Regions from separate parts of the Homo sapiens genome. Here all the other regions are linked to region 3. The links come from fine-mapping of genetic effects on plasma protein levels. Region 3 holds a variant in brackets. A gene starts in each other region. All regions are shown on their forward strands. Region 1 holds the start of MYBPC1 (myosin binding protein C1). Region 2 holds the start of FABP3 (fatty acid binding protein 3). Region 3 overlaps TTN (titin). Region 4 holds the start of MYL3 (myosin light chain 3).

What was found. A credible set is the group of variants that fine-mapping cannot tell apart. PIP is the chance, under the fine-mapping model, that this variant and not a neighbour inherited with it causes the effect. The UK Biobank Pharma Proteomics Project read protein levels with antibody pairs (Olink). The fine-mapping took linkage between variants from a reference panel, not from the people measured, so its PIPs are less certain.
Region 1: it holds the start of MYBPC1, and the variant in region 3 is the best candidate, but not a certain one, in a credible set for the plasma level of the MYBPC1 protein (UK Biobank, PIP 0.78).
Region 2: it holds the start of FABP3, and the variant in region 3 is the best candidate, but not a certain one, in a credible set for the plasma level of the FABP3 protein (UK Biobank, PIP 0.54).
Region 4: it holds the start of MYL3, and the variant in region 3 is the best candidate, but not a certain one, in a credible set for the plasma level of the MYL3 protein (UK Biobank, PIP 0.74).

Annotation. Positions count from the first base shown.
Region 1 is chr12:101,591,906-101,597,054 of GRCh38, forward strand. MYBPC1 (myosin binding protein C1) reads left to right here and starts at 3,066. Exons shown (of 32, transcript NM_002465.4): 1 at 3,066-3,190. The coding sequence starts at 3,166.
Region 2 is chr1:31,370,228-31,375,376 of GRCh38, forward strand. FABP3 (fatty acid binding protein 3) reads right to left here and starts at 2,849. Exons shown (of 4, transcript NM_004102.5): 1 at 2,715-2,849. The coding sequence starts at 2,787. It overlaps LOC124903892 (a long non-coding RNA gene), which reads left to right and starts at 4,072. Exons shown (of 2, transcript XR_007065573.1): 1 at 4,072-4,160. RefSeq lists a silencer at 3,035-3,329.
Region 3 is chr2:178,565,022-178,570,170 of GRCh38, forward strand. It overlaps TTN (titin), which reads right to left. Exons shown (of 363, transcript NM_001267550.2): 326 at 1-5,149. All of the region lies in intron 1 of TTN-AS1 (TTN antisense RNA 1), which reads left to right. Among named protein-coding and RNA genes, the nearest start is that of TTN-AS1, 44 kb to the left of the region's middle. The variant A/G (reference allele first, on the strand shown) is at 2,437.
Region 4 is chr3:46,860,774-46,865,922 of GRCh38, forward strand. It overlaps MYL3 (myosin light chain 3), which reads right to left and starts at 2,671. Exons shown (of 7, transcript NM_000258.3): 1 at 2,489-2,671; 2 at 187-214; 3 at 1-52. The coding sequence starts at 2,617. RefSeq lists an enhancer at 1-23.

The DNA.
Region 1 (5,149 bases), not on the chromosome of region 3:
CTGCCTGGAATAGGAATGTAGTGTCTAGAAGATACACAGCTATTTTGGACCATGAGGTTACCAGGAGGATGGTAGAGCAAGAAGGAGGAGTCTGGTTTCCTGGATACACTGTGAAGCCACTGTATGACTCTAAGCCATTTGCTTTTAGACTTGCTTTATATGAGGGAGAAATACTTCTATCTTGATTCAACTGTTGGTATTTTGTAGTTTTGTGTTGTATTTGAACAAACTTCATCCTCAATAATACAAAAGGAAAAATCTAATACAGCATTTAGCAAAAGAAACAAAAGCCTGTTGACCATCCCCCTGTCTTTCCTGAGAGTACAGCTAAGGCATCTGCAACCTTCTAGATGAATGCATAAGATCTGAAATAGGAGTTATGTATTCCTAAAACAATATAGCCCTAGGAAAATTACACAAGTCTACTTGTTATCCTAATTTAAAATTTTACCTTAACCACCTGATACACTGTACAATAATTTGTCCTAGAATTTGTCCATACTTCCAATTCCTATAATAATGCTTTGCCTTTTTATAATTAATTCCTTTATTACCAAAAAGTTCCCCAGGTCATAAAATACTTTCTCTGTGGATTGCAATATTTCCTGGCATATGTTCACTTCAGTAAGACGATCAGTGTATTAAAAACCCAATGGGGTTTCTGCAGAAGCCAATGATGGCATGGCACCTCTTTTGTGGCATGTGTGAAATCTGCCCTTCGCTGTAAACATTCTTATGCAACATGACACTCTGCCCTATGTCCATTTCATATGTGGTGTTCAGTGTGCTGGGAATGCTGAAAAAAACAATTCTCTCTTAGAGATTTCCCAAGTAGAATCACAGTGTTAAACCTATCAGCAGCCTCCAAGATCATTTTTTTTAAGCCCCTCATTTTACACAAAAAGAAACTGAGGCCCAGAAAGCCCCCTGACTTTCTCAGAGTAACTAAGCTGGTTAATGATAGATCCAGAAATAGAACCCAAGGGACCAACTTCAGATTCTAGGTTCTTTCATATGTTTCATCTATTAATTGATATCCCCAGAGCGGACTCAGCAAAGGAACGTTTTTTTTTTTTAAAGTACAAAAATGTGTTCAGTAGTATAATGTGGTTAAGGAGGGGCTGTCTTTATAAAAGATGTTCATTACCATCTTGACTGGCTTCCTCCCCCTCCCCGCCACATAACTAAAGCATGATGCTATTGAGTTCTAAGTCTAGTTTCCACCCTTATATGAAAAGTCAGCTTGGCACAGAGTTTGGTAGAGCTAAGTCTGACCAGCTGCACTCTCAGCCACAAGGGAAATTAGACGAGACAGTGTGGCTGCTTCAGTACCAATCAATCAAAGTTTTTGAAAATTATCTTGAAAACACACACCAATAAAGGCATGTGTGTAGTTGTCTTTTCATATAAACTCAGGTTAGTCCTAGTGCATGTGAACAAAGAAAGTAAGGTGTCTTCTTCAGGTTGACTACTTGGTAGTTCCTATTTCTCTATCAGTTCCATGAGCGTTTTGGGAGAAAGTGACCACATCTACTACAGTCTTTCAACATCTTAAGTTAGATTTGTGTACCCTCCAATTGAATCACTTGAATCAAAACAATAGCTACTAGTCTATTTGACTTTCTTTGCCCAGGCCCCATATATATCTTTTTATTTTATTTTTATTTTTTGTAGAGACAGGGTCTTGGTTTGTTACCCAGGCTGGTCTCCAACTCCTGGCTTCAAGTGATCTTCCCACCTTGGCCTCCCAAAATGCTGGGATTATAGGCCCCAGCACTGCACCCAGCCTCCATATATATTTTTAAGTGTATAATCCAGTGGTTTTTAATATATTCACAAAGTTGTACAACCATCACCACTATCTAATGCCAGAACATTTTCATCATGACCAAAAGAAACCCCATATGCACTGGCAGTCACTCCCAATTCCACCTCCCTTAGGCCACTGGCAAACACTGATATACTTTCTCACCATATGGATTTGCCTGTCCTAGATATTTCATATAAGTGGAATTGTACAATGTGTGTTCTATTATTTTTTATTATTATTATTATTAATTTGAGATGGAGTTTCGCTCTTGTTGCATAGGCTGGAGTGCAATGGTACAATCTCGGCTCACCACAACCTCCGCCTCCTGGGTTCAAGTGATTCTCCTGTCTCAGCCTCCCGAGTAGCTGGGATTACAGGCATGCACCACCATGCCCAGCTAATTTTGTATTTTTAGTAGAGACGGGGTTTCTTTATGTTGTTCAGGCTGGTCTCGAACTCCTGACCTCAGGAGATCCACCCCCCTCAGCCTCCCAAAGTGCTGGGATTGCAGGCATGAGCCCAGCAGTGATCTATTATTTTATAGTCTACGTTTGTATGTCTGACTGACTTCTTTCACTTAGTGTAATGTTCTCAAGCTTCATCCACGTTGTAGCATGTGTCATTGCCTCATTCTTTTATATGTCCTATAATTTTGAAAAATGATGTTTTTGGAAAAAAATGCAAACGCAGAGTATCCCCTAATAGAAATCTTTGCTATTCTTAGAGAAGAACATGAGACAAGTTATTTAACCTAGAGATTTGGCTTGAAAAATTAATATTGACATATCAATGAGGAATAAGAAAAAATATAAATGCAATAATTAAGGACTGATGAAAATGAAAAGCTAATTGGAGCATAAAAGTGATCATCTGAATACAAAGACTTTTCTGCCTAATCTTAGTGAAAATTAAGGTATAGGTTGGATTGGCATATTATGATTTTTAATTTGTTTTTTTAATCATCCAGCAAACTTTTTGCACTCCTGAGTCAGCACATGCATCTGTCAGAGAGAGAAGAGCAAGACGGAGCACGAGGCTGCAGCTGAATTTAGAAAGTTAGAGGTGTTCTCATCAGCCACATGAGATGGGCAGGAGATTCCTTCCAGTAGGCGAGAGAGCAGAGTGCAGACAACAGATGTGAGAAAGGTCCCCATAGCTGTCAAGTTCCTGCATCCTTGTGCTGAAGAAAGGGAGGTGCCATCATGATTGATGTTCAGAGGCAGTATAAAAGCACTGGGTTTCTCCCCAACTGCTTGTCACACCGACCTGCACCATCTCTCGCCTGCCTGTGGGGTTTCTGTCAACTAGTCGTGGAGGGAAGGAGACTCTTTAAAGAATAACATCTTATTGTGGCCATGCCAGAACCCACTAAGAAAGAGGGTAAGACTTATCTAGAAATCTTTTTGTTGTACTCCTGAATAAAGTGTTTATTTTGGTATTTATCTTCAAACAAATAACAAATATCTTAACTAGATGAGAAAATAAAATCACTATGATTTAAGGAAACGATCTTTTAGATTAAACAGACCAGAGGAAAAATACAGCGAGAGTATATTGAATTGAAAAATTTCTGATAACGATAGTTTCTAAAGGGATATTGACTAAAATTATCAAATGATAATTCTATCATTCAATTGTAAAGAATCCTTAAAGTGTAATTTAAGGATGTTAATTGCTGATGGTAAACAGATTACGTTTTCAAGCATATTTTCTTAGATTTAATCACAAATTTTTTACCATGTATTTGCAATTTGCAGAGAGTAGGAGACTTAAAATATTTTCTCAAATGGTTAATACATTGGATCAAGATTTCAAAAAAGAATTTGTGACATTATTTCCATATTTGCTACTTTTTTTAATGGAAACATATTTAAAATATACAGACGAAGGGTTTTTTTTGTTCTTATCAGTGCCTTTGGAGGTTCGTTATTAAATTCTTGCATGGAAAGAAAACCAAACACCTGATAAAAAAGGATGTCCCTGAATATCATGAATAGATTGTTCTTTCATGAGTTTTATTGTAGAGAATTTCATAATATGTAGTAGGCTTTAAGAATAGTTAAGCTGAAAGTATAAAAATATTCTTCCTTAGAAGAAATGTTTTCCCTAACAAAGTTTCTCCTTTCTATAAAAAAATTAGTGTATTAAAGCTACCAATTGGTAACAGAAGTAAATTGGAATTAGTAGTTATGAAAATAAATAATAATAAGCACAAATTAATACTATGCATGCATTGAATTTAATTTTTAATTAAAATATCTTTTAAAAATATTATTTCATTTATATTCATCTTCATTAATGCTTACTGAATCTTTATTTTTCCCTTCTGCAAATAAAAGAAAAAGAAAGATTAGCAGGAAACATAAAAATAGTCATAGTTTTCAGTTTTTAATTCTTAAAAATGCTTTAGCTATTATTTTAAGGAACCTTGAAAAAGATGTTGAAATACTAACCAAATTATCAAAAGTCTTTTAAACATATTTTCTTTATATAATTAAGTAACCAGTGTTGACAGGCTGTGGTGATCAGTTTACAGGTTGGCCTTACTTAGTGGCAGAGGGCATTGATGGATGAAGTCTTTCACCCAAAATAACCACACCAAATGCATGTATTAATATGGGAACTTAATCCTGACTGTCAGGCAGGGAGTCCAACCCCTGCTAAAGTATCTTATTTGTAATGCAAATGATTTACGTGTGTACTAAGTGTCCTTTTTATCTGCTCTGTCACTTTAACCTCTCCGAAGTGTACCCAGAAGCAATACATTCTACCATGTTTCCAAACTGGAAACACAATATTGTTTTAATTATTCTGAATTTAGTGAATGATTTTGCATTTGTTTTTTTAAAGCCTAATTGAAAATGAGAAGAAAGCTGAAAAACCAATAAATAAGGTGACAGCCTGTAAGAGCCAATAAAGCTAATTAAATTATTCTGATCGCAAAGGCGATGAAGTTTACTTTTCATTTGACAACTCAGTCTGATTCACTCTTTTATGGGGAATGAAATTATAGAGCTGCAAAGAGGAAAATATATCTTTAACTTCAGCCCCCACCCCCCCAATATATATTTTTTTCTTTCTGAATAAAACAGCATGGATGCTAAAGACTCCATCATCTTCTTTTGCTATAAAAGCATGTTGCTATTCTGTGTAGGAGTTCCTCCACCCAGGACAGTAATTTTATACCCATAAATTCTTTGGTTAGTGTAAATTTGGATGATGGGGATTGGGGCAAGAAGAGTTACTGATATATTTAAAATCCATTGAGGAAGTACAGAGATTTTTTTGGTTCCCTTACCAGCAGAACTGATTCTTAAAGGAACTGTACCTTGAAAAGCT
Region 2 (5,149 bases), not on the chromosome of region 3:
AGAGGTAAAGCCCAGGGTCACAAATCTGAGATTGAAGCCCAGAATTGTCTGAGTCCAGAGCTTGCTTAAGTGCTCAGCTATACTACCTCCCAAGGCTGGAGCATAAGGCTGCCTTCCAGGGCACCTGAAAAGCTCTCAAAGCCTTAGGAATAAGGCTGAGGAAAGAAGAGAAACATAGACTTTCCCTTCCAAAGCCTTAGGCATAGGAGTTTTCCAACTTTGGAAGTTTTTACCCTGAAACTAAGAAGTGTTAGTGCTCTTGTCCCTTATACATGGCAACCCATCATTTTCAAAGCCTGTTATCTATGATCTAGGAGTTAGGTACAAAGGAAGTATTTGTCCTATTGTGCAGATTCAGGAGGAGCCTAAAGCGGTAGCAACAATGAGTTAGACTCAAACCCGTCTCCTGACTCCCAGTCTAAGGCTTTACAGAGACTCTCTTCCTGACCCAAGCATGGCTTCCTTGGGTACTGGGCAAAGTCCTAAGTGTCCTGCAACCAAGTAAAGAACAAAGAACTAATCATGACTGCCCCCTCTCCCCCCAGCAGCTTAACATTGAACTGTCTTCCAAGGCAAAGGTGAGGCAGGAGGCAGCCCAGTGTAGTGAGGTGGTGTGTGTAAAGTCTCCAAATGTACCTGGCTACATAGTGCTTGCTGGAAGCTAGGTACTCTGCACATGCCCTACATGGGTTGTTTTACTTAATGCTTGTAACAGCCTCGAAGCGTAGATTATCCCCAGTTTACAATGAAGAGTGCGAAGTGTCTTGTCGAAATTCAAAGAGAATAAACTACTGACATAGATTTGAACCTCGGCTCCAAAACTGTTGACTATTTTCACTGGGCGATTCTGTCCAGCACATACTCAATCCAGGCCAGCAGTTGTGCCTGTGGTCACTGGTACTAGACGGGACCTCTTTGCCCCTTGAGAGCCCTAGGTCTACAGCAGGAGGGGCAGGGGCTGCCTCTGCTGTTATGCTGTCAGCCCACCCTTGCTTGGCCAGTGAGGAACTTGGCATTGCCCCTTGGTATCAGGATGAGTCAGGCCAATCACACTCCCTTGCACAGAGCAGGACCTTGTCACGGCACTGGGAGCTCTGTTCACTTAGGATCTACCCAGAGGTATGGAGTGTTTGAAAAGGAAACCACTGCGGGATGAGTGAGGGTCTGAACCAAGAGAAACTAAGAATATTGAGCTGACAGAATTTAGGAGACTCAGGGAGATCTGGGTTCTACTTAGAAATGAAGCCAGCACTACTTACTGAGAGCTGAGGAGGGTATTTTCCCAGGCTTTCCATTCCTACGATGAGAATGCTGGCTGCCTTAACATAAGCTGCTGAAAGATAACAGGACTTCAGGGAGACCAGCCCGCTGACCCAACTCGGGGCAGAATAAGGGAACAAGAATGGTAAAGTTGTTGCAGCTCAATTCAAGACTCAGCTCTGGCCCAGCTTTGGAAGGAGGAACTAAATCTGGGCATTCCAACTTCCCAATAGCTGCTGGGCTGTGTTCGTGGGGGCTGGGGGCTGCTCCTCTAAGAATGACTGCCTGCCTAGAATTACTGGGCATAGCGCCCAAGATAGGGTAGAGGCCGTTGAGAGCTTTGACCTCTCCATCTAAGCCCAAAGCAGTAGAAGAAGGGCTGAGGTCAATCATTAGCTAAGCAGTTTCTACTTTTCTTCCCACTCGCAGGGCCTGTAGGGTAGTGGGAAGAGCTCTGGGTTACAGATCTAGAAACCTTAGATTTTCATATTGGCTCTGCTGTGGAATTGTTATAATACATTTCTACTCTCCTGGTTTCAGTTTCCCTGTTGAACTAGATGGTATGGGAATCTCCAAGTTCCTCACCTGTGAGATTCTTTGAATCCTGATTCTTCTCCATCCCAACACCACAGCAGTTCTCCACATCCTCCTAAACCAGTGATCCTCCCTCCCAGGTCTTGACCTTGCCTTGGGACCCTCTACTGCACATCAGAAGTCCAATGGCTTTCTCTGCCTACCCCTCGCACAGATAGGTGAGCCTTGGGTTGCAGGAAAGGCCCAGCTGATCATGGGCCTCTTGCCCCACCCTACCACGAGGCTCACAGACAGTGATGAAGGCCTGGATACATAGACTGCAGGACAAGGTCAGACTGGCTGGTGAGAAAGGGCATTCTCCAGCAAGAATTCTCTTCCCTAACCAAGCAGAGATGGGGATTGCTGCTTACTGCAGGTTCCTGTCTTACGTCCTTCTCATATCTGATTCACTGATCCACAGTTTTTTCCCCACTAATCTTTTTCCTCCTAGGTATTTCCTACTTGTTTACATCATTGTACACTCCCTGGCTGCCCCATTCCCTTTCTGGGTTCAGTCTCCTCCAATTTCTAAACTACCCATGCCCCTGTTCTTTTTCTCCCCTGGCTACACTCCCTTTCCTGTGATCAGTGTTCTTTATCCAAACCCTCCTCCTACCTCCAAATCACATATCCCTCTTCCTGGAAAGAGCCTCCCACACAGCTGCCTCCTTCCACCACCTCCCTACCGTGGTCTCTAACCAGATTTGGACCACCAAAGCCCCCTCTGAACAGGCCCCACCTGCTCTAGGCCAGGCTGCCATCTCCGCGCTCCCCTATTCCCCAGTCTTAACCAGGAGGGATGCGGCAGGAGTGCTGCGTGGGGCTAGGCACGCCACCAGCCAGTCCCCAAGCCAACATCCTGAGCCCCGCGGCTTGCTCACCGAGTGACTTCATGTAGTCATCGAAATTCTTGCTGTCCACTAGCTTCCAGGTGCCCAGGAAAGCGTCCACCATAGTGATGCTGGGCTAGGCTGAGAGAAGCTACAAGAGAGCAGGCGTGCAAGGGCTCCGACGGCGGCTCCCTGCCCGGGCTGCCGCTTTAAATAGCCCTCGCATCACATGAGGAGACGTGGCCCACGCCCCCGGCTCCCGAAATAGGAAGCCCCAGGCTAGGGCTCACCCAGGAGGGGCTGGTGCGCCCATCCCCCAACCCACCGAGGTGGGTGGGGACCAGCCAGTGGCGCCCTGCTAGCCTGCGTCAGCGCCAGTGCCTGGCCCCCGAGTCCCTACCCCAGGCTGGTAGGACCTTCTCCCTTTCCTGGCCTCTAGGCACTCTGGAATCTGAGAAGGAAGCAGCCAACACCAGCCCGAGAGCTAGGGCGCATGCCATGGTGGATATCTTCCCGTCCCCCAGTCCCTCTTTGAGCTTAGCGTCAGAGCAGAGATGAGACTAGAAAAGCAAAACGCCCTTGGGCTGGTGCCCACGCCGGGGAAAGCTCTGGTTGACTTCTGGCACGGGCATCTGTCCTCGTTTTACAAGTGAGGAGTCCGAGGCTCACAGGGGAACTGACAAGGTCTCAAGAAATAGGAGGGGGTGAATGGAGCTCAGATTGCAAGCTTAGTCTAGCGGGCTTCAGAGCTCGCGCTCTCCCTTCACTCTCACTGCCTGGTGGCGGAGACAGTCACCAGCGGCTCGGTCTGCGGCTGAGCTGACCTTGTCCTCTGCCTGTTTTGAGCAAAAGCCTGACCCTTCGCGCCCCGCCCGCCTCACACGTGCTTGCCCCTCCCTGCGGAATGTCTCCTGCTGGCCCTCCTCCGTCCCCACCCCACCCCACCATCTAGCTCCCCACCCGCCCCTGCAAGTGCTCTGGGCTTTTCCGGTTTCTTCGCACAGCTCCGAGCTTTAGCTCAGGTCGTTCCCAGCTCCCCTCCTGCAGAAATTCTGCCAATTCGGTCAGCTCTTCAAGGCCCATGGCTGCCTTCCCCACCTGCCGCCCTTTCTTTGGCCTGTGCACACTAGCAAGCCGCCTGCACTTTTGGGTAATTTGCTGCCTCCTTTCGAGAGCCTGTTGTGCGGTGGTTTGTCACTGTATAGTTTACTAAGCACTTTCAGTAAAAATAAGACCTGCCTTGTCTTGCTATTTATTGCATGCTGAGGGCTTTGGGTGTATTGTTTCATTGAACTTTTTATTTTATTATTATTTTTTAGAGACAAAGTCTCTCGCTGTGTCTCCCAGGCTGGAGTACTGTGACGCCATCATAGCTCACTGCAGCCTCAAACTCCGGGGCTCAGGGGATCCTCCTACCTTAGCCTCCCCAGCAGCTGGGACTATAGGCACACGCCACCACACCTGGCCTCATTGGACTTTTAAAGCAAAATCCATGAAGTAGGTGTTACTGTATTATTTTCTCTTTTTAAAAAGGTGAACAAGTTGAAGCTCTGAGGAGCTCACTCATTAATTCAGCAGTTAATAAAGCACCTACTTTGTGCCAGGCCCTGCTTTGGAGAGAGACAACAGGGAACAAGACACACATTCACCTCTGGGCAGCCAGACATAAAACTAGCGTGGTGCCTCTAAAGGGAGTCCTGTCCTGTCCTGACCTGAGGGCCCAATGTAGACTTCTCAAAGGAAGTGAGGTATAAATGAATTTCTGAGGGATGGCAGGAGGCCCTGCACACCAAGGAGTAGTGCCGAACTGAATTTCAGCCAGCAGCAGCCTGTCCAGGGTGGGCCTGCAGGAGCCAACACAGGAGCCCAGAGGCCTGCCACGTGCGTAGAGTATGGCAGGCCCTCCTTCCTGGGACTCTGTTTCTCCATGTGCAAACCCTGCCTCCCTTCCCTGGACTGTTCTGAGAACAAGGCCAGGGAGGAAGAGCCCTCTCCCCACCCTAAGATCTTGATTCCTTTGGACGGTCCAGTTGCCAGAAGACTCAGAGGCTCATTTCTGCCAAAGCTATAGGGACAGGCTTCAGGGCTGGGCATGGAGCCTTGGTGATCTCACTGTTGGAACAGGTGCCAGGAGAGGAGGAGGGGGAAAAGATGATTTCTGACTCAAGGTCGCAGCCCTCACACATAGGGCCTCCTCTCAAGGACTGTGTGGCCAGGAACTAGAACTGACTCCTTATGTGGCCCTTGTAATGCAATGATGGAGAGCTGGGGCTGGGCTAATGGCTGCTGGCAGATCTGCGTTCTGATCTGAATTTTGTTGGGTACTAGCTGTGTGGCCTTGGGCAATTCACTTAAGCCATTCTGAGTCTCCATTTTTTTTTTTTTTTTTTTGAGAAGGAGTCTCGTTGCCCAGGCTGAAGTGCAGTGGTGTGATCTTGGCTCACTGCAACCTCCACCTCCTGGGTTCAAGCAATTCTCCTGCCTCA
Region 3 (5,149 bases):
AGTTTGGTTATTTTAATTGTTGTTCTTGCAACTGTTGCTGATACCATGTGCCAAGTGGTGGTGGTTGTATCTCGCTTCTCTACAATGTAGTTGCTTATTTGGCAGCCACCAGTATAGGCTGGAGGTTCCCAAGATATGACTACAAAGTCTGCACTAACTTCATCAAACCGAACTGGGCCAACTGGAGGTCCAGGCTTTTCTAAAACGATAACACTGAGATTTTCTGTTGCTGTGCCTGCACTATTTGTTGCCGTTACGGTGTATTTTCCAAAGTCATCTTTGTTACCTTCTTTAATGTGCAAAACAGTTGAGGTAGCTGTTTCTTCAACGTTTACTCTTGTTGTCTGTTTAAGAGGCTCACCATCTTTGACCCAAGAAATGTTAGGTCTTGGTCGGCCTATAACTGGAATTTCTATTTTAAGATCTTCTCCAGCTTGGATACTATATGTGTTAAATGGTAACTTTAAACTAGGCTGTATAGTCAAGTCCTTGGCTATGACAGGAACACCCAACACTCTTGGATCGCTTTTTCCTTTCTCATTATAAGCCTTGACACGGAACTGATATTCTTGTCCAGAACTCAAACCAGTAACAACTGCATTACAGACTTTGGATTCAGCCACAATGCTCCATTTTTCAGTTCCTTTGGGCTGCATTTCAACAACGTACCCCAGGACTCTGCTACCGCCATCATGTTCAGGTTTCTCCCACATAAGTGATGCACTGGTCTGGGACACATCAGTGAGTGTAACCTTTCCTGGTGGGGAAGGAGGTTCAGCAGCTTTCACGGCATCAACAGTTTCCACTGGAACACCAACTCCAAATTCATTTTCAGCCATGACTCTGAAGTAATAAATGGCTCCTTCTGTAAGGTTTTCCACTTTAAAACTTGTTTTGCTGCATTTACTACTCACATTAGCATACGCTTTTCTGGTTGACTCACGTTTGTCAATCACATAGTTCTTGACCTTTGCCCCTCCATCAATGATGGGTGGCTCCCATACCAGGAAGGCAGAATCTTTTCTCACTTCTTTGACTGCCAAATTCTGTGGTGGTCCTGGAGTGTCAAGAACTTTCACAGTTACAAAAGCAGACTTTGATCCACTGCTGTTTTCCAACTTAAGAATGTATTTTCCAGCATCATTTCTATCACAGTTATCTATTGATAGTTGGGTATAGTTTACTCCCTTTTCAATTTGGACCTTATCTGTGAATTCACCTTCCTCTCGAGACCAAGTGATCTCAGGCGTTGGACGACCTTTGAATGGAATGTGAATTCTGGCAGATCCACCAGCTCTTACAACAATTCCTTTTCTTAATTCGGAGTCAAGGTCAAGTTCAGGTGCTTCAAGTTTATCTTCTGGTTTCACAGTACCAGGAACTGATGTAGCCTCACCTAAACCAACTTTGTTGAGGGCACAGACTCGTATTTTATACTCTTGGTGTTCAGTGAGTTTTGAAATTTCAAATCGAGTGACTCTCAGGCCAGTCTGTGGAGTAACTATTTGCCATTCTTCTTCATCTGCTTTACAGATTTCTACTACATATCCCAAGATCTCACTGCCGCCATCATAGATGGGTTTACCCCAGGCAAGTGTGATTGAATTTTTAGTGGTGTCTACAATGTGTGCATTGGTAGGTGGGCCAGGTTTGAACACAGGATCACAGGCTTTATAATAAACTGTAGCTGGACTTGGTTCCCCAACTCCAGCAGCATTTTCTGCAGAGACCCTGAATTCATACTCATGATCTTCTGTTAATCCTGTCACTCTTAGACGCAAATCTGTAATGCGGCGTTTATTACATTTTATCCATCGAATGCCACTTCTGTCTCTTTTCTCTACAATGTAACCAATAATCTCACTTCCACCATCACTATCTGGACGGTTCCAACAGACGGTCATGGAGTCTTTGGCAATATTTGTGACTTCCAAGCTTTTTGGTGGTCCAGGAAGCACAAATGGATTTTTCATTAGTACTGGTGCAGATTCCAAAGGCTCTCCAACACCATATTTGTTGACAGCCATTATACGGAAAACATATTCATTACCTTCTAAGAGTTTGGTAACTTTCAGAGAATTGGTCACAACTTCTGAAGCAACAACAGTCCAGGCAAGTCGACTGGTTTCTCGCTTTTCAACAACATAGTGAGAAATGTCACTGCCACCATCTTGAAGTGGTGGAGACCATGTTAAAGAGCATTTTTCAGAAGTGACTCCAGTAACCTGGACTGGCCCTTCTGGAGGTCCTGGTCTATCTAATACTTTTACATTTACTGGGAATGACTTAGAACCTGCAACATTGGAAGCTCTTAAAATATACTGCCCACCATCAATTCTAATTGCATCTTTTACAATAAGTAAAGCCTTGAAATCTGTGTTCTTTATTTCACATCTAGCAGATTCTTCAATTTCCTTATCTCCTCTTAACCACTCA[A/G]TGGTAGGTAGGGGCTTTCCATGGACATCAGCCTCAAGTCTGAATGTTTCTCCAGCATTTACCACAATTGTGTCTCTGAATTTTGGATCCATTGAAATTCTTGGGAGTTCAACCTCATCCTTGGCAGTTATTGGTCCAGTACTGTCAGAGGGTTTACTTATTGCACCAGCTGCATTCTTTGCAATGACTCTGAATTCATATCTTTGATCTTCAGTAAGACCTGACACAGTAAATTGAGTTTCAATGACATTTGTAAAGCTAGCTTTCATCCAACGACCATCAGGCAAATCACGTTTCTCTACAATGTAGCCTGTAATCATACTTCCACCATCATACACAGGTTTGGTCCACTGTAAAGTGATTTCATTTCTTTTAACCATTATTGGTTCTGGGGTTCCTGGTGGGTCACAGGGATCTCTGGCTACATAGCATTCAGAATTCTTGCTTGCTTTGCCTACACCAACAATATTTTCAGCATACACTCTGAATTCATATTCAATGCCTTCTTCAAGATTCTGTGCTTTGAATTGGGTGTCATGAATAATAGTTTTGTTGACCTTTGTCCACAAAATACTGTTTCTTTCTTTTCTCTCCAGGTGGTAACCTATGACGGGGCTTCCACCATTGTTGACTGGTTCATGCCACTGTATGACCATGGAGTCTTTGGAAATGGCTGTGGCAAATGGTGTACCTGGAGGGCCTGGTTCTTTGTAGGGATATTGAGCTACAATTGGATCAGACTCTAAGGCAAAGCTTTGTCCATATCTGTTTTCGGCAAATATTCTAAATTGGTATTCTGTACCAGTTTTCAGTTTGGTCACTTTGAGTGTAGTTCTAGCAACAGTAGCAGAAACAACATCCCATACTGTGGTGGTTGTATCTCTTTTCTGAACAATGTAGTTGGTGATTTGGCAGCCCCCTGTATATAATGGAGGGTTCCAAGATAATGTAATACTTTCAGCACTGACGTCATCAAATTTAACAGGTCCTTTTGGAGGATCAGGTTTATCTAGAGTTACAATTTCGATGGATGCTGTCTTCTGACCAACAACATTGGCAACTGTGATTCCATATTGTCCACCATCATCCTTATGAGTTTCTTTAATACTGAGTGTGGTGAGATCCAGTGAATCGGTAACATTGATTCTTGTGGTCTGCTTCAGTGGGAGACCATCTTTAGTCCAGGTAATGGTTGGCTTAGGACGTCCAGAAATTGGCACTTCTATTTTCAAATCTTGGCCAACCTGTACACTGTAACTACTGAATGCAGGTTTTACATCTGGCTCAATTACCAGATCTTTGGCAACTATTGGAACTGCAAGGGACCGAGGATCACTTCTCCCCTTTTCATTTACAGCAACAACTCTAAAAAGATATTCTTCCCCTTGAGTTAGGTTGGTAATTACTGCCTGAAGAGACTTTACTCGAGCACACTCTGACCATTTCTCACTGTGTTTAGCTTGCATTTCCACAATATACTGAATGATTTTACTGCCACCATCATGTTCAGGTTTTGTCCAACTCAGAGAGACACTGTTTCTGGTGACATCATCCACAGTTATTTTTCCAGGAGGTTGTGGCACTTCTGCAACCTTAATTGGATCAGCAGTCTGGGCAGGAAGGCCAATACCATACTCATTCTCAGCTGTGACTCTAAAGTAATAACTGCAACCTTCTTGGAGCTGATCGATTTTCCAAGAATTCTTATGGCAGTTAGTTACAACAGCAGCATATGATTTTCTTGTGGCTTCACGTTTCTCAACAATGTAATTTTTTATTTTGGATCCCCCATCCAACAAAGGAGGTTCCCATGTAATTGATACTGAGTCTTTGGTGATTTCTGTGACTTTCAGGTTAACAGGTGGACTTGGCGTGTCCAGAACTCTCACAGTAACAAAGGCAGACTTTGTTCCACTGCTGTTTTCTAATGTAAGCGTATATTTTCCACTATCATATCGGTTGACATTGTCAAGAACAAGAGAGGTGAAACTGCTAGTGACATCAATTATAGCTGCATCTCGGATTTCACCATCCACCTTTCCCCATTTAACTTCTGGTGTAGGACGACCTTTTATAGGAACAAATAACCTTAAGGAGCCACCTGCCCTTATATTTATGATTTTCCTTAGTTCTAGGTCAAGATCAATGTCTGGTGCTTCTAATTTTTCTTCAACTATAATAGGTCCAGGGACGTCAGCATGTTCTCCAACTCCAGCTTTATTAATAGCACAGATACGGAAGTTGTATTCATGCTTTTCCAACAGCTTCTCTACTTCTATGTTTGTTTTATTAATTCCTGTTGGTGGAGTGCACATTGTCCATTCACCAACACTCACATCACATTTTTCAACAATGTATCCTTGAATTTCACAGCCACCATCATATATTGGTTTGCTCCAAGAAAGGAATACTGAAGATCTGGTTATGTCTATGACTTTGGGGTTGTTTGGGGGTCCTGGTTTATAAATAGGATCACAAGCCTTTTGGTAAGCAGAAGGAGGGCTTGGTTCACTAAGTCCAGCAGCATTCTCAGCAGAAACTCTGAACTCATAATCGTGATTTTCTATGAGTCCAGTTACTCTCAGGCGCAACTCTCCAATCAGACGCTTATGGCATCTTGTCCATCTAATGCCTTCTTTATCCCGTTTCTCAAGAACATATCCAAGAATTTCACTACCACCATCAGATGCTGGTCTTTCCCATACAACAATCA
Region 4 (5,149 bases), not on the chromosome of region 3:
TTCATCTCACACTTGGGTGTGCGGTCGAACAGCATGAAGGCTTCCTTGAACTCTGCCAGGAGAGGGCAGTGAGCCACAGACACTCCCAGGGTCAGCCTACCCCACTCCCCACACCCCTGGCAGGACCCTCAGACCAGGGAACCCCAGCCCAATCCTGCAACCCCTGGGTTCAAGACCCCTGCTCACCTTCAATCTGCTCAGGTGTGAACTCAATCTGAAAAGAGACCCCAAAGACTCAGATGCCCGGCTTAAAAGGTGGGGCCACACCTCCTCCTGGGCACTCGGTGGCCAGCCCAGAATGTCAACTGTCTCAGCCTGTCCCATTCCAGCATCCCAGCCTGCACCCCCAGGACCTCCTGCAGTCCATCTTGACGCCCTCCTGCCTCCTTGCCCCCCTCCACCTCTCCAGCCAGAAGGCCTTGAGGCTGTGTGCACCGAGGCCCTGATGCTCGGTGGACCCTGGCAGGGGTAGCAGTGAGGAGGGAGGCCACATGCCCAAGGCCTCAGGCCAGCGTGGGCCTTACCTGATGCTCCCGGTTCTGGACAGATGTACCTTAAGCCACAAGCCCCAGTCAGGCTGGCTTTGCTTGGGGCCTGGTGGGCAGGACTGTCAGCAAAAGTGAGATGGGAGGGCCCAGGGTGGTAGAAGGAGTAAGGGCAATGGTACAGGCCGAGGGCTGGTGGCTGGAAGCATCGAGGGTGAGCACAAGTGTGCATGTTTGTGTGTGAGCATGTGTCTACATACGTCTGCCCTCACAGAGCCCCCTAAGCCCTAAAGACCAGGCAGTCACTCACCAGCCCCACTATACCTATTTCTCACACACCCTGTCCGTAGGTCCCTGGGAAGCTCCCACACCCCAGGACAGCACAGGGCCAGGGCAGTGCTGCTGAGTGTTTGCTGAAGTCACATTGGGGCCACCTTGATTGACGTCAATCAAGAGGCCTCCCGGGATCCAGTGTCCCCCTCCTCACCGGATACCAGGTCTATTTTTATCACTGCAGTCACTCGCCCCAAGGTCAAGGTCACACAAGGGAAAGGAGGTTGGGGGAGGGGCATGACTGGCGTCTCTCTCATGGCTGCTGCCACGGAGCCCCACCAATCTCCACAGTGCATGCCGGCACAGAGGGACACCCTGTTCAGGGCCACCCTACCATGACTGTCCCTCCTGGCTTCTGGCTTGACCCAGTGTTGGGAAGAACAGGTTGTCATTCCTGGCTCCCTGAGAGCTCTCTCCACCAGGAAGCCTACTGAGATTAGGGTCTCTGGGCTCCTGGCAAAGGCTCCCTGCCCTTTACCTGCAACCTGGGGATGGGGGAAGAGGGCGCATGAGGGGTCTCATTGTCCCCACCTCTCAGAAGGAAGTCTGTGCCAACCTAAGGCCTGGCGAGAAAGGACAATGCCACTATGGGCCGTGGCTGTGGTCACAGCCTCACCATGAGGCCTGCAGAATGCAAGCCTGGGACCTGGGTGGCCAACTCCAGGTGCATATACTCTGAATGGTTCCCAGCAGCCCTGCAAGAGGGGACTTGCTGTTCTGTTTCACAGCTGAGGAAACCACGCCTCAGAGCAGCGAAGAACTTGGCAACTAAAATGGAGCAGAGTTGGGATTTGAACCCTTGCCTCAAAGGACATGGTAGGTGTCTCTGGGAAGGGCTCATGAACAGGAGGCAAGACTTCACCGATGGAATGTAGGTCCTGCTGGGCATGCAGGGATGGCGAGGGTTCCACAGGGCTCCTGAGGAGGCAGCCAGGGCAGCAGTGGTCCCAGCCAAGAACAGGGAGCAGGCAGGACACAGGGTACGTGCTGCTATGCAGATACCACAGGTGGGAGTCATGGCTCCCTCCAAGTTTAGACTCTGAGAAAGACTTTGCAGTTGGGGAAGGGCTCCTGGGGCCACTGGTCATAGCTCCATGACCAGCTTCCTGCACAGCTTTCAGAATGTCCCCAGCCAGCTGATGCTTCAAGTTCCCTACCTAAAAGCTGAGGCCTGGAAGTGCTCTACCAGCTCTGGGCTCGGTGATTTGAACGAGACCCAGCCTGGACAGGGGCCCTGCTTCTTCTTACTCCCTATCTCATCCACGCTGGGAGCGTGTATGGACTTGGGACCCCTCAGCTGAACAAGGAAAATCCCTGCCTGGCTCCAGCTGACTCCAGGATTCCCCAAGGATGAGAAGTCCAGGAAGAAGGGCAAGGGAGAGTCCATTTCCAAAACCACTAAAAAGACAGTCCAGACTCAAACCCCAGTCTAGACTCCACCTTAGTTCTCAGCAGCACCAGAGGAGTCCTGCAGAACGTCTGACCACCATCCCTCCTGCTGCAGCCCTTCTGATGCCTGAAGCAGTCAGGGCTTGTCTGACCTCTGCACAGAAGCTTCCAGCGTCAGCTCAGTGCTCACCTCCAGAGCCTGACCTGCCTCTTGCTAGGTCCACTCTGGGATCCACTCACTTGCCCTGCTCCTATTGCCACCACCCAGCTTCCATACCCACCTTGATCTTGGAAGCATCAAACTCGACCTCCTTAGGGCGCTCAGGCTCAGGGGGAGGTGCGGGAGCTGGAGCTGCCTTGGGGGCTGCCTTGGCATCATCCTTCTTGGGCTCTGGCTTTTTGGGGGCCATTGGGGGCTGTAAGTACAGAGAGGGATGTGGAGAGAAGAATGCAGAAAGCAGGGTAGGTGAGCCGCCTCACCCAGGCCTTTATCCTGCCCGGATACCTCATGACCCCAGCCCCACCCCTGCAGTGCACAATAGGGACAGGGCCATAAAAGGATATGGCTAGGCTTAGGGGCTATTTTGGGGCCTGGGGAGGGCATTGTTCAGGCTCAGGAATGGGTAGTGGAGGAGGGATCTCCATTCCTCCCAATCACCTGTTGGGAAGGGGGAGGGAGAGAGGGGGACAAAGGCCACTGCTTAACACACACATACACACATACACACACACTCATCTGCACACCCGCACATACCCACACAGGGCCCTGCTGCCTCTCTGCAGGTCCGTAAGTTGAAGAGGTGAAGAAGGGTGGACCAAGTACATGCTACGTGTTGTGTTGGGGCCAGAAGGACTGGGATGATCTAAGGGCACCTCTGAACTTAAGCTCTCCAAAGTCCCCTGTGTCTGTGTCTGTGTCTATGACCGTGTCCATGTGGGGGAAGGCGGAAGTCAGCATGTGTCTGTGTGTGTTGTCTGTGTCTGTGTCGGGGTGTCTATGTGTCTGTGGGTCTCTCTGTGTCTGTGTTTGTGTGGAGGGGGGTCTGTGTACACCTGTGTGTATTGTCTGGGTGCCTCCGTGGTGGGGGGCTCTGTGCGTGCCTATGTGTGCTCCGTATCTGTGTCTATGTAAGGGATGGCCCGGGTGTCTGCATTTGTCTCTGTGGGTCTGGGTCTTTATGTGTGCGTGGTGTGTCTATGTGTCTATGTGAGTGTGTCTGCGGGTGTTGCTTCTGTGTGTTTATGTCTGGGTGTTTACATGTGTCTGTATGTGAGTGTCTGGTCATGGCAGGCAGCTGTAGCCCTGGCTATGGGTCCAAGGGTCTCCAGGAACCCCCACAAAGGGCAAGAGAAAGGATGCTGCTCCCTCTAGGGCAGTCGCCCCAGGCCAGTTCAGCAGCCTCCCTCTTCAGCCCCTGCTGGCCCAGGGACCAGTTTCTCAGCTTTCACCCCTAGATTCCTACTTCCCCTCTCTACAGGCCCCAGGGATGCACATTTCCCTACACACCCCAGGCCTGGCTCCCCACTGCACCCTCTGCCCAGAGTGCCCTCGCCCCCTCTGCCTGACATATTCAAGGCTTGGCTCTACTGGCCCTCTTCCAGAAAGCTCTCTCCAATGCTATTCCACTGCCACATGTTGCCCTCTGCCGACCCTTTTGGCAGGGGCTCTGAGAGGGTCTGCCTCTCTGAGGAACCCCAAGCTGCCAAGCAGGGTCTGCCCCAGTGCAGTGATGCTCATTCCCTGTTCCTACCACTCAGTGCCCACCCCCAGTGCCCATCCTGCAGTGCCCGGCCCCCAGGGTCCATCCCAAGCCCAGCCTTCAGCAGATGACAGTGACAGAGTACAGCCTGACGGGACTGCCACTTGGGGAGGTGGGAGGGCTGAGGTGGCACAAGGCTCTTCCCGCATGGGGACGCCAACAGTGGGGACATCTTGTAAACACATTGGGCTCTGTTCCTTGCCCAGCATCTGTGCCTGGGGGGTGGGAAGGAGGTGCTCCTGGTTACTTTTAAGTGCCTGGAGCCTTTGATAGAAACTTCAAAGCCAGGGATTTCCCTGGTGTGGCAAGGGGCTAAGCCTGAGGCTGAGAGGTGCTGTGGGGCCCAGGGCCTCTACCTGGCACGCCCTGCTGTCTTCCTACTGGGCCCAGTCCCTCTCATCCTGTCACTCCGCCTCACAGGGAGGGACAGCAGTCCAGGGCTGGGGCCAGCCCGCTCCTGACTGGAACACGTTCTGCCTCTCATCTGGAGGGCAGAACACCCACATCTGGAAATCTGACAACATCCGGGACTGGCGGGGGGGCAAGTTTTTCACTTTTCTTCCAAATGTTTGGCAACAGTATTGAGAAAGAAAGGGGTGGGGGGATGGTCAGTGGAGACGAGCCAGAAATACCACAAGAGGAGAAGACAGCCAGAGGGCCACACAGAGGGGCCCCGGGGAGGCCCCACCACCCAGGCCTGCCGACCCTCAGGACAACGGGCTCTGGAAGTCACACGGGAGCCCCAGCCACCCACAGACACCGCCAACAAGACCAATTTCCTTGTGTTCATCATGAGGGAAGCAGAGGGCCAGAGCAGAGGACATATACAGGGCCCTCTCTCCCATCTCATTTCTTTCATCCTCACACAATTACCACCCCTTGGAAACCACCCAACGTTGGCCCAAATGGGGGTAAGCCAGTGACAAGAGCATCCTGGGCCTCAGTGTCCAGGTCTGTGATCTGGGATGGGCAGGCTCATGCAGCCAGCCAGAGCCACATAGTGCCACCTTCCTCCACCTGTGTGTGGCAGAGTCAAGGCAGTGGCTTGGGCCCCTCCTGTCACACACAGGGCAAACGTGGTCCTGCAGCAGGGACAGGGTGCACAGAGCCATCCTCACTCCCTCATCAGGACCCAGATGAAGGCTAGGGCCAGGATGGTGACTGCCTGAGCTCTGATTCTGG